3 linked regions of the Homo sapiens genome follow. The protein of the gene in region 1 purifies or fractionates together with the protein of each later gene. This does not show direct contact. Each region holds a gene or a part of one and is shown in the gene's direction. Other genes may lie near its edges. The genes, in order: DNAJC25-GNG10, CHST10 and SEMA4D.

Region 1 (3,749 bases):
CGATCCTAATAATTTCAGGAGACCCTCCCATGTGTTTCCATTCATTTTATCTTTCTCATTATATATATATATAAGCATATATATAAGCCATATATAAGCATATATAAACATATATGAGATACAAATGTAAATAAGCATATATGATACACAAAATTGTTATTATATATATAACTTTTGTATCTCATTACATATACATGTATCTCTCTCATTACATATATAACTGTATATGTTGCTATATAGTCCCATGCAATATTTAGTGGGCTGAGGTGAAAAATAGACACATATATGTTATATATGTAATGACAGAGACATATATGTGTAATGAGATTATATATATTATATATGTAATGAGGGAGATATATGTAATGAGAGATATATATTTATTCAATGAGAAATACAAAATTATAATGTATATTCATTATGTATTATAAGTATATAATGCTATGTATCAGTATTTGATTTCACTTTATTAAAAGAGTTGATTATATCTGAACGTTTATTTATTTGTTACTGACTGTCATCCTCCATCAGAATATATGCTCTCTGAAGTTGAGCTTCTTGTTTACTTTGCTCACCACTGTATCCCCAGTGCCTAAGTAACAGTGCCCGGCTCAGAGTAGAGACTCAATAAACATTTACCAGATGAATGATAGAAACAGATTTTTTGAGGCAAAGTTTTTCATGTTGCCATATAGTCCCATGCAATATTTTGGACATACTTATACTAAAAAATTATTATCTGAAATTCAAATGTAGGCCGGGCACGGTGGCTCACGCCTGTAATCCTAGCATTTTGGAAGGATCGCTTGATCCTTCCAGCAGGTTGTCCCGGGAACGCGCAGCCCAAGGTGGACGCACAGACCCGCGTACAGAGATTTTTTATTGTCATGACTGGGGGTGGTGGCACTACTGGCATTTAGTGTGGAGAGGCCAGATATGCTGCTAAACATCTTACAATGCAAAGGGCAGCCCCTCAAAGGCAAAGAATTATCTGGTCTAAAATGTCAATAGCGTGGAGGCTGAGAAAAACTGAACTAGATGGCTATGAACTTTCAGGGTCCCTACCTAGTACACAGGCAGCGCCTAGAATTGCTAAGTTCATCTTCCGTTTGGAAAGGCAGCATGGGGTTAGTGAGAGGAAGGCGCCCGGGGCTGGTGGCTGGCTTTAAAGGCCTACGTGCAAATCTTCTTGACGCTGATAACGGGATGCGAGAGAGCCAGGTAGGTTACCTATTGCAGCAGGTCAAGTGATGATGTCGAAAAGGATGCGTGTGCCGGACACTGTGGAAGGTAAAGCGCTCCGCACAGCCCGCCTAAGTGCGCCCGGGACAGAGCCATCCCCCAGGTGCTACCAAACAAATCCTCCAGCTGCTGGTACGGGGAAGGTGTTCAGTGACACACCGGAAGCAGCCTAGTGGCTGAGGCGTCCTTCTCCCTACCAACGGGTTGCGAAGGAAGTAGTTGCTGTAGCCGCGCCCTGTGCGCCTGCGCGGAGGCGTCGGCTGCTGACGTGTAGCTGGGGCCAGACGGGACTAGCCGGGCGCGCGGCTGAGTGCTGCAGAATCGCTGGGGTGGCAGAGCCGCCAGCGAGGCTGGGGATGGGGGCGCCGCTGCTCTCTCCCGGCTGGGGAGCCGGGGCTGCCGGCCGGCGCTGGTGGATGCTGCTGGCGCCCCTGCTGCCGGCGCTGCTGCTGGTGCGGCCCGCGGGGGCCCTGGTGGAGGGGCTCTACTGCGGCACGCGGGACTGCTACGAGGTGCTGGGCGTGAGCCGCTCGGCGGGCAAGGCGGAGATCGCGCGGGCCTACCGCCAGCTGGCCCGGCGCTACCACCCTGACCGCTACCGGCCCCAGCCCGGAGACGAGGGCCCCGGGCGGACGCCGCAGAGCGCCGAGGAGGCTTTCCTGCTGGTGGCAACCGCCTACGAGACACTCAAGGTGAGGCCTGCGGGCGTGGAGGGGCTTCGAAGACTGGCCGCGGGAAGCCCACGGCGCCTTCCGACCCCGGTCCGCGGAGCGTGGGCCTCTGTGACCCCGAAACTGAGCACAGCCACCACCGCGACCTTTAAGATACTCACGTTTCCCACGTGGCCCTGTGAAAGAGCCGAGTCGGCCCCACGGGGCCTTGGGGGGCACAGCTAGCCTCCTTGCCCTCTTCCTTTTTGTGACATTGTTATGCAAAACTTTGGCCATCTTACGATTTCGTGAAAATATTTTAATAACGTGCATTTCACATTCGAAAAGCAGGGTGATCATTATTAGTAGGATCTGGGGTAGCCCACAACAGGGAAAGTCTCGAATATCAAGTGACAACTGTGATCGCATCAGTTTGATATGACAGAAAATTGGTTTCTGGAAATAGTGTTAATGGTGACGCTTAGTTTGGGTTTAAGGAACTAAGAAAACACTGAGAAGAACAATGAACACCAGTCAAAAGGCTGGATGTGAGTCTTTGCTGTGACACCCCTGTATGACCTTGGATAGTGACTTATTATGTTGAAATAGCTGTTTCTTCATATGCAAAATTAAGGCCATGATACCTCCTCTCAGAGTTATTATGGGGATTAAATGATAAGTGTGCGAACCGCCCCCCTTTCCATAGGATCCATAAATAGGTGCTTAATGACTTGGGTACAAAACTCTGAGAATTTCTAGTAGGAAATATTTTGTGAATATGTATTTGTATTTCATTTGACAGGTTTTATTGAGTCTTGTGGGGATGAGAGATTTAGCCCGATGCTGTTTTCTTCTACTACTGCAAAAAATCAAACCATCTAGGACATCACGAAGTATAAATCGTACTTGATGGTGGTATTACTGCTTGAAGGGCCCCATCATACTAATGCGTCAGCGATTGTAGTTGTAAAGTATTTCTTTTCTAGCCTTTTTTTTTTTTTCCCGAGGCAAAATTTTCTATGTTGCCAGGTAGCCTGCTTTTAATGATTGTACTTTGAGTGGATATAATTTTACCTTGGATTGTTCCTCCAGATTGTTTTTCCAGAGCTGAAAATAGTCAAGGAGCTAACAACTTTATTGATGCCTTCCAGAGCAGTTTGGATAATTTGGAGTCATAAAATGAGTGGTGGAGGGGCGGGCCCTGAACTAGGTAAACTAGGTGAATTGAACTAGGTAAAATTTAATTTACCTAGTTCATTAAATTCTCACTAGCGTTAGTGAGATTGTAATTTTTATTGGCAGTTAACTGAGGGATGGCTGGGGAACTGGGAAAGTGCTGAGGCCCCAAAGGGCTTTGTTGCCGATTATGTAAAAAGTGATGGAAAAAAGACTCCAGAAAAAATAGGAAAGAACTCTCCATCCAAGGCACTTCAGCATATGAAGCTCCAACCTCTGTTCCTTGTAGTCAGCCAGAAGCCCTGCTGGTGCGTGAGGGAGCCCTGGACCAGTGTGTGAAATCATAATGGGATTTACTAGGGATAGTAAAATTGATAGGATTAGGGATGTTAATCATGTTAATTTGTTTCAGGCGCGAGATGGTAATAAGGTTGTGGTGCTTGAATTTAGGTTGAGTGTCAGGAATGCAGTAGTTGTTAGGATGATATAGATAATTAGGTTAAAGATAGTGATATTTGGATTGTATATCAGTTATCCCATTATGATTTCACACACTGCTTTATAAACTAAGACCATGCAATAGTATTTAGTGTGTTTGACTTTTGGGGATTTAGGGAGTTTATGGACTTTGGAAGTTAAACAAGTGGACGCTTACCCTCTGTGTCAACCCATCTTCTGGAA
Region 2 (3,649 bases), on another chromosome or scaffold:
ACTCGGGAGGCTGAGGCAGGAGAATCTCTTGAACCCAGGAAGCGGAGGTTGCAGTGAGCTGAGATCGTGCCATTGCACTCCAGCTTGGGCAACAAGAGCGAAACTCGGTCTCAGAAAAAAAGTTTACTTTGTGCATGGTGTAGCCGAATGTTTGAATGGAAAATAGAAAATAATATTTGTCTTTAAGTTGGCTTTGTATATTTCCAAAGGGAAAAAAGAAAACAATGCTCATTCTTACACACAATTGAACAAGAAATCTTTTTTCTTTAGCTGGGCATGGTGGCTTACGCCTATAATCCCAGCACTTTGGGAGGCTAAGGCAGGAGAATCGATTGCGCCTAGGAGTTTGAGACCAGCCTGGGCAATATACTGAGACCTCATCTCTACACAAAATACAAAAATCAGGTGGTTATGGTGGTGTGTGTTTATAACCCCAGCTACTTGGGAGGCTGAGGTGGGAGAATCACTTGAGCCCAGGAGTTGGAGGCTATAGTGAGTCATGATTGTGCCACTGCACTCCAGCCTGGGTGACAGAACAAGACCTCGTCTCTTAGAAGAAGAATTTTTGTCTCTAATGCTTTGCTAAAAGAAAAGCAATATCTAATATCTTTTCTTTGTTCAAAGAAAAGCAGTATCTAAAAGTGCAGAGTTTTCTGCATTTTCTAAAGGGAACTTGTTGGGAGGTGCTCTCTCCTGATGCGCTGTTCTTGAGTGCCATCCATGATCAGGGTTAGGTTTGGAACAGAGAGGGAGGAGAAGACAGAGAGGCTCTTTTGGGATAAGTGAGCAAGAGGTGGGATGGATGAGGAAATGAGGTTAAACGAGACCCGTTCTTGTAAGAGCAAGGAGAGTGCCTGGCGTGGCTCCTGGTTTTCCATGGTGGGTGGAGGGCCCGGGCAGCCGCTGATGCCCTGTGGGGAGGAACGGAGGCCACTCTGCAAAGGGGCCTCTCGCTTCCCCAGTGTCTTCATCTCGAAAAGCAGGCAGTCAGTAGCCCCCAGGATGCTCTTCCCACCACCAGGGAATCCCAGGAAATTCACTTAAACACACAAGGGAGAAAGCATCCTGGCCAGAGGTCATGAGTGTAAGAGAGTTTGGTTACAGTAGATCCATAAAGGAAGAGCTGGGTGGGGGGCCCTGAGGGGGGACCTCTGTCATCCTGATAGTTCCAGCGTCCCGGTTCTAGTGTGTTCTAGAAGTCTTATGTCCTTCCCATTTTCTAACTGACGTTGTCCCCTGGGAGGACAGGTTGTTAAAACTACCCTATAAATGGATTTCCTGGCAAGCCCAGTGCATTTTAAAAGATATAACAAGGATATTTGGGTCCATTCAATACAATTATTTGGAAGGATCATCTGCTTTGAAATTTTGGGAAGTTCTGTGTAGCTTTAAGAGATAGATATGGCCGGGCGTGGTGGCTTACGCCTGTAATCCCAGCACTTTGGGAGGCCGAGGTGGCGGATCACAAGGTCAGGAGATCAAGACCATCCTGGCTAACACAGTGAAACCCCGTCTCTACTAAAAATACAACAAAAAATTAGCCAGGCATGGTGGTGGGCACCTATAGTCCCAGCTACTCGAGAGGCTGAGGCAGGAGAATGGCGGGAACCCGGGAGGCGGAGCTTGCAGTGAGCTGAGATCGTGCCACTGCACTCCAGCCTGGGCCACAGAACGAGACTCCGTCTCATAAAAAAAAAAAAAAAAAGAGAGAGAGAGAGATGTAGCAGCTGAAGCCTTAAAAATGCTGAGAAACAGGGCCACAACTAGAGGGGGCCGATGGGGTTGGTGGAGGCTGCCCTGCTATTCAGGAATGCCCTCAGGATGCCTCCAGAGAACAAGGAGGTGTGAGCAGCAAGGGGACTTTAACTCACCGAGGACAGGGGGCCTCTGAGCAACTTCTGTGTGTACTGGCACATCTCCCTGTGCCCCCTCCAACCCATGCACACACAAGGCCTCTCACATTACAGGTATTCTCTTAGGTTCTAAAACAGCCCTGAAAAGAATGGACCAGCATGTAGAATTTGAGCTTTTTCATCTTTTTCCCCCTAGCTAGAGGATTCCAAACTTCTTACTTTGGTTTTTAATTTCTTTTTTCCCCCAAGACGGAGTCTTGCTTGCTCTGTCGCCCAGGCTGGAGTGCAGTAGTGCGATCTTAGGCTCACTGCAACCTCCACCTCCTGGGTTCAGGTGATTCTCCTGCCTGAGCCTCCTAAGTAGCTGGGATTACAGGTGTGCACCACCACACCCAGCTAATTTTTGTATTTTTAGTAGAGATGGGGTTTTACTATCTTGGCCAGGCTGATCTCGAACTCCTGACCTTGGGATCTGCCCACCTTGGCCTCCCAAAGTGCTGGGATTACAGACATGAGCCACTGTGCCCGGCCTTATTTTGTTTTTTAAAGTCAAACTTCTCTCCAAAGATCTGAGGAACCAAGCTTGCATTCATTTTCCTTGCCCAGCCTGCCGATCGGGCTGGTGGAGAGGCTCTGAAGGCCTCATGAAGGGGCTGGGGATAGTGGGTGTCACTCTGTAGACAGACAAGGAAGGGAAGAAGAGAAGGCTCCAGATGGAAAGGAGGGGATAGACCAGCAGGAGCGGCTCTGCTTGGCCCGGTCCTGCCTCCTTTAATGGTCCCTGGGCCTCTTCTGCTCTGTGTCACCTGCAGCCAACTGGGAAGGAGCTTCCAGACAGCCAGCTCGTTCAGCCCCTGGTCTACATGGAGCGCCTGGAACTCATCAGAAACGTCTGCAGGGATGATGCCCTGAAGAATCTCTCGCACACTCCTGTCTCCAAGTTTGTCCTGGACCGAATATTTGTCTGTGACAAGCACAAGATTCTTTTCTGCCAGACTCCCAAAGTGGGCAACACCCAGTGGAAGAAAGTGCTGATTGTTCTAAATGGTGTGTGTGGGTCTACTGAATGTCCACTGGGAAGGGTCTTGGTGGCCGGTGCTGAGGAGGCTGGGGAGGACAGCAAGGAGGAGTCACAAGAGGGCTGGTTTGACCTGAAGGGACTGGTGGCCGTCCAGACAGGCCTGTTTTTGTTGTTTCCTGTTAGTGTTGTGCCTTACAAGTTAGTGGGGCTCGTTTAGACACCGATTCTTTTCAAAGGGGCACAGCCACAGTCCAGCTCTCCTCACCTGTCACAGCAGATCCTCACTTTAGGTGGCTCGCCCACCCCCAGGCCCCCCTCCTTTGTCTCTTCAGGTTCCCTGTGCTGATGGTTATAGTCACCCACTCTGTCCGACATCCCCAGGGCCCCACACTCGCAGAGCCACCAGGAAGCCTCACGGTCACCCTCTCTGCAGTGAGAAGGGCTCACACTGTAGAGCCTGGGAGGGGAGCCCTGGCCCGGGGCCTGGAGCCTCTTTACCTGCAGACCAAGCGTTCTGTGCCAGCGAGCAGGAAGAAATTGTACCCCATTTCACACTAAGCATCTGTGTTCAGAGGATTGAGTCAGCTTGCTTCAGGAAACCTGATGTTTGCTAGGGAACAAATTAGATCATCACAAAGTAACCTCATACACTGCAGTTTTGATTACTCACTACTCTTTTTAGAGATGTCTATTTATTTAAATTCCAATTAGTCTGAACCGATCCTAATAATTATGGGCTCTGCTTATGAAATTTAGCTTCAGACAGGAGTTAGTT
Region 3 (3,649 bases), about 22 Mb from region 1:
CTTGGGGTCAACCATGGAACAGTTTATTTTCCTTGGAAAAAAACTGGAATAACCCATAACACTTGGGTTTCCAGTTGTCTGTTTTGCCAAAGCCTTTTCCTTTTTTTGTTTCTAATGCGAAATCATCATTGTTTTCTAAGTATCTGTGGAGGGAATGACTTGAGAGTGAAGAGTGTGAAGTTTGCCGCTGTGGTCACTGTCCTTGGTTTCTGTGTCTGGGTTAGTGTCACTGACCTGTAGCTTTGGCCCTGCAGACCGGGGAGCTCTGCACAAAGCCATCAGCCTCGAGCACGCTGTTCACATCATCGAGGAGACCCAGCTCTTCCAGGACTTTGAGCCAGTCCAGACCCTGCTGCTGTCTTCAAAGAAGGTAAAGTGACGCAGGCAGCTGGACCGGGGGCTTCTCCGCTCGGTGGCTTTGATTCTAGGTGACAGGAGAGTTGGCAAGCTGGAGTCGGGCTCCTGGGCAGGCCCCTCTGTCTGTCTGCCCTGGGTGAGCCAACCTTCAGAGTTTGACACAGAGCCATTCCGTGAGCTGTGGGATCTGAATTGGGGAAGGCAGGAAGGCAGACCTGGGGAGACGGGACTTTCTCTTCGAAGTTGCTGGAATGTCATTGAGTTGTTGGTGCAGCTTTACAGGCTGTGGAGAGGTGGGCACTGCTCCATGAAGACACCTTTTTATGCCCTGAGCTTGGGGGGTGTGCAGACTGCATCTGTGGGATATGATAGTGATACAGCTGACTCGTCACCGTGGAAAATCCACAAGAGAAGTGGTTCGTCTCATCTGTAAAGCTGTCTCCACCTGTGGCTGAGACTCTGGTCTGGCCTGCAATACTCCCAAGCAGCCCTTGGCAGGGGTGGGTGGGCGGGCATCCACGCTGGCCTTTAGGGGGCTGCCTCCCTGGCCCTGGCTCCTAACGGGACCTCCAACCACCTTGTGGGATCCAGGCCCAGTCAGTCCTCTCCTCCCTCAGCTGGGAGCAACAGGCAGAGGAAGAGGGCCCCTGTCTGGCCGGGTAAGATACCTACCCTTGGCAGGTGCGTATTTGCAAACACCCCTCCAGGTCTTCTGTCCTCTTCCCTCCCCTGTATCCACAAAGCTTGGGAGCCTGGGTCCTTTTACGTGGTCACCTCCCCTCTGCTAATGGAGAGTTCTCCCTCAGATCTGAAAGGAAAAGAGAATGAAATAGCCTGAGCAAGTTATAAGCCACTGGGTACTGGCATCTGTTCACCAGCCTCTCGGTCTCCAGGACACAAAGGGAGCCCTGGAGATTTGAAGGGTCGACGCTTTAGCCACTGTGGGGCCTCACCCCAGCCTCGTTGTTGAAAGAAGGGGACCCAGAAGCTCTTCTGGGGCCATCGTGCTGTTCAGTGGCCTCAGCCAGACTGGGCAGGCACCTACAACATCTCTAAAATGTGGACTTCTCATTAGAATGAAGATTGGGCCCCTGGTGTGGACATTCGTGAGAATGACACTCTGTTCCAAGGGTCACTTAGGGACCCAGGCTGGTGGAGGCTTCCAGGGCACATGGGCACTGATCCTCAAAGGCAGAAGGGGGTAGGAAGAGGAGGGCCGCACAGAGGGGGTTACGGGTCAGTGCCCACCCGCCATCTCCCAGAACTCGGTCACATGGCCACACCAGGGCAGCTGGCCACACAGGGAGCCTCGCGCCCAGGAGGAGGAGCCAGTGGGTTTGGGGAAGCGCTTGCTGGTCCTACTGGACCACCCGACCCGCCTGTCTCTGTAGGAGCCTCCATTCGTGGGGACGTGGCTTAGTTGCCTGGACAAGCGGAAATACATCCTGCCTGCCGTGGGGTCCTGTGCCTTCTCCTTGGGCCTCAGTAGGCTCCAGGTGGGGGTGGAAGGCCCAGCTCCATGGCCATGGCAGCAGGAAGTGGCTGTTCAGTGGTAAAAAGACTGTGCCGCCTGACCCCATCAGGCTCTCTCACGGTGATCAGCAAATGGAGAAACGGCCAGTACCACGCCCTCCCCCTGTCCTACAGCTGGGGAGGTGCGCTGTGCCTCCACCCTCACCTCCTCTCCCCTGATGACAAGCATGGGGTTTTGCTTTTTATTTTGGTAAATACACATCAGATGAAATTTGCCGTCTTAACCATTTTTCATTGTGCACGTCAGTGGCATTAAGAACATTCACGTTGTTTTGCAGCCATTACCACTGTCTGTCTGCAGGGTGCTTTTCATCTTCCCAAACAGAAGCTTTTTACCTGTGAAATACAAACTCTTCATTTTCCCCTCCTCCAGCCCTGGGCAGCCGCCATTCTGCTTTCTGTTTCTGTCTGGGTACCTCATATGAGTGGAATCACACAGTATTTATCCATTTGTAACTGGCTTATTTCACTTAACATAAAGTCCTCAAGGTTCCTCCCTGCTGTAGCAGGGGTCAGGGTTTTCCAAGGCTACATACTCCTCTGTCGTATGTGAATACCGCATTTTGTGAGTCCCGCATTTTGTGTGTGCGTTCATCCCTTGATGGACACGGTTGCTCCCACCTTCTGGCTTCTGTGAACAGTGCTGCTGTGAACGTGGGTGTGCAGATACCTCAAGTCCTTGCTTTCCATTCCTTGGGCGCACACAGCAGATGCGGTTTGCTCGGCCCTCTCTGAGCCCACCGAGTAGGCTGTGTCTGTATTTTCACCAGGACTCCTTGGGATGCTGAGCTACAGCTAGCGTGGCAGAGGGCAAGGAAGGCACTTAGACAGCTCAGTTGCCTCTGATCACGTCCACCGTCACTCCAACCTGCCCTCGGGGTCTGACGCGCACACACAGCAGCAGAGACAGAGATGGGAGCATGAGAGCTGCCTGCAAGGGGACAATCCTCAGGCCCAGGGAAGGCGGAGACAGGGGGCGTCGAGGGGCAGGAGTGCACAGGACAGGCTTGCTCTCAGCGGGCCTCACTCATGCTGCCAGGTGCCTGGTCAGGCTTTTTTTCTTTGCCTTTAAAAATTTTGTCTTGAAATAATTTTAAATTTACAGAAGAGTTTTGATGATTGCACAGAAGGATCTTGAGCGCCCCCACCTAGCTCCACATGTCCGATGTCTCACATAGCCAGTGTGCATTTATCTGAGCCAAGGTGCTGTCATGGTGCAGTGCGTTACCTGAACCCCAGACCCTGGACCCTCCTACCTCCCGCCCACCACATTCCTGGCTCAGCACCTCAGGTTGCACTGGACACTGCATCTCCTCGGCTTCTGCTCTGTTCCTGCCTCCCTGACCTCAGCACTCCTGGAGAGGAGTAGTCTGGTGTTTTGTGGTGTGTCTGGTGTATTCTTGTGATTATCTTGGGGTCGTGGTTTTAGGGGGAGCACCAAAGAGGGCGCTTTCTGGGGATGGGGCATCTGTATGACTCGCACCAGCGTGATGACCTTGGTCATTCTGTCCAAGTCACCACCGTCTTTTTCCATGTCGAGTGTGTCGGGGCATGTAGTCCACACTGGGGGTGGGGGAGAGTGAGCCCCACCTCCCAGGGGAGTCATGTGGGAAACCCCCACAGTCATTCATGCTTATTTGCAGGGACAGACTTGGAGGCTACAGAAATGCCCTGTTCTCCCACCCACTGACATCCACATCGACCAGTGGGTCCTGCCTGCAGCAGTTACAGCTGGCTGTCCTGACGACCAGTTCCTCCT

Evidence for each region.
Region 2: the proteins of DNAJC25-GNG10 (region 1) and CHST10 purify together in Homo sapiens (affinity purification with mass spectrometry, with the first as the bait; one large-scale study listed by BioGRID). This does not show direct contact.
Region 3: the proteins of DNAJC25-GNG10 (region 1) and SEMA4D purify together in Homo sapiens (affinity purification with mass spectrometry, with the first as the bait; one large-scale study listed by BioGRID). This does not show direct contact.

Annotation. Positions count from the first base shown.
Region 1 is NC_000009.12:111,629,810-111,633,558, forward strand, and holds the start of DNAJC25-GNG10 (DNAJC25-GNG10 protein precursor), read left to right. Parts: upstream 1-1,524; 5' UTR 1,525-1,598; coding exon 1,599-1,934; intron 1,935-3,749. Other genes in the region: DNAJC25 (dnaJ homolog subfamily C member 25 precursor), read left to right, coding at 1,599-1,934.
Region 2 is NC_000002.12:100,397,159-100,400,807, reverse strand, and holds part of CHST10 (carbohydrate sulfotransferase 10), read left to right. Parts: intron 1-2,665; coding exon 2,666-2,900; intron 2,901-3,649. UniProt on the Homo sapiens protein: Catalyzes the transfer of sulfate from 3'-phosphoadenylyl sulfate (PAPS) to position 3 of terminal glucuronic acid of both protein- and lipid-linked oligosaccharides.
Region 3 is NC_000009.12:89,383,088-89,386,736, reverse strand, and holds part of SEMA4D (semaphorin-4D isoform 1 precursor), read left to right. Parts: intron 1-254; coding exon 255-370; intron 371-631; coding exon of another isoform or gene 632-790; exon of another isoform or gene 791-3,649. UniProt on the Homo sapiens protein: Cell surface receptor for PLXNB1 and PLXNB2 that plays an important role in cell-cell signaling. Regulates GABAergic synapse development. Promotes the development of inhibitory synapses in a PLXNB1-dependent manner.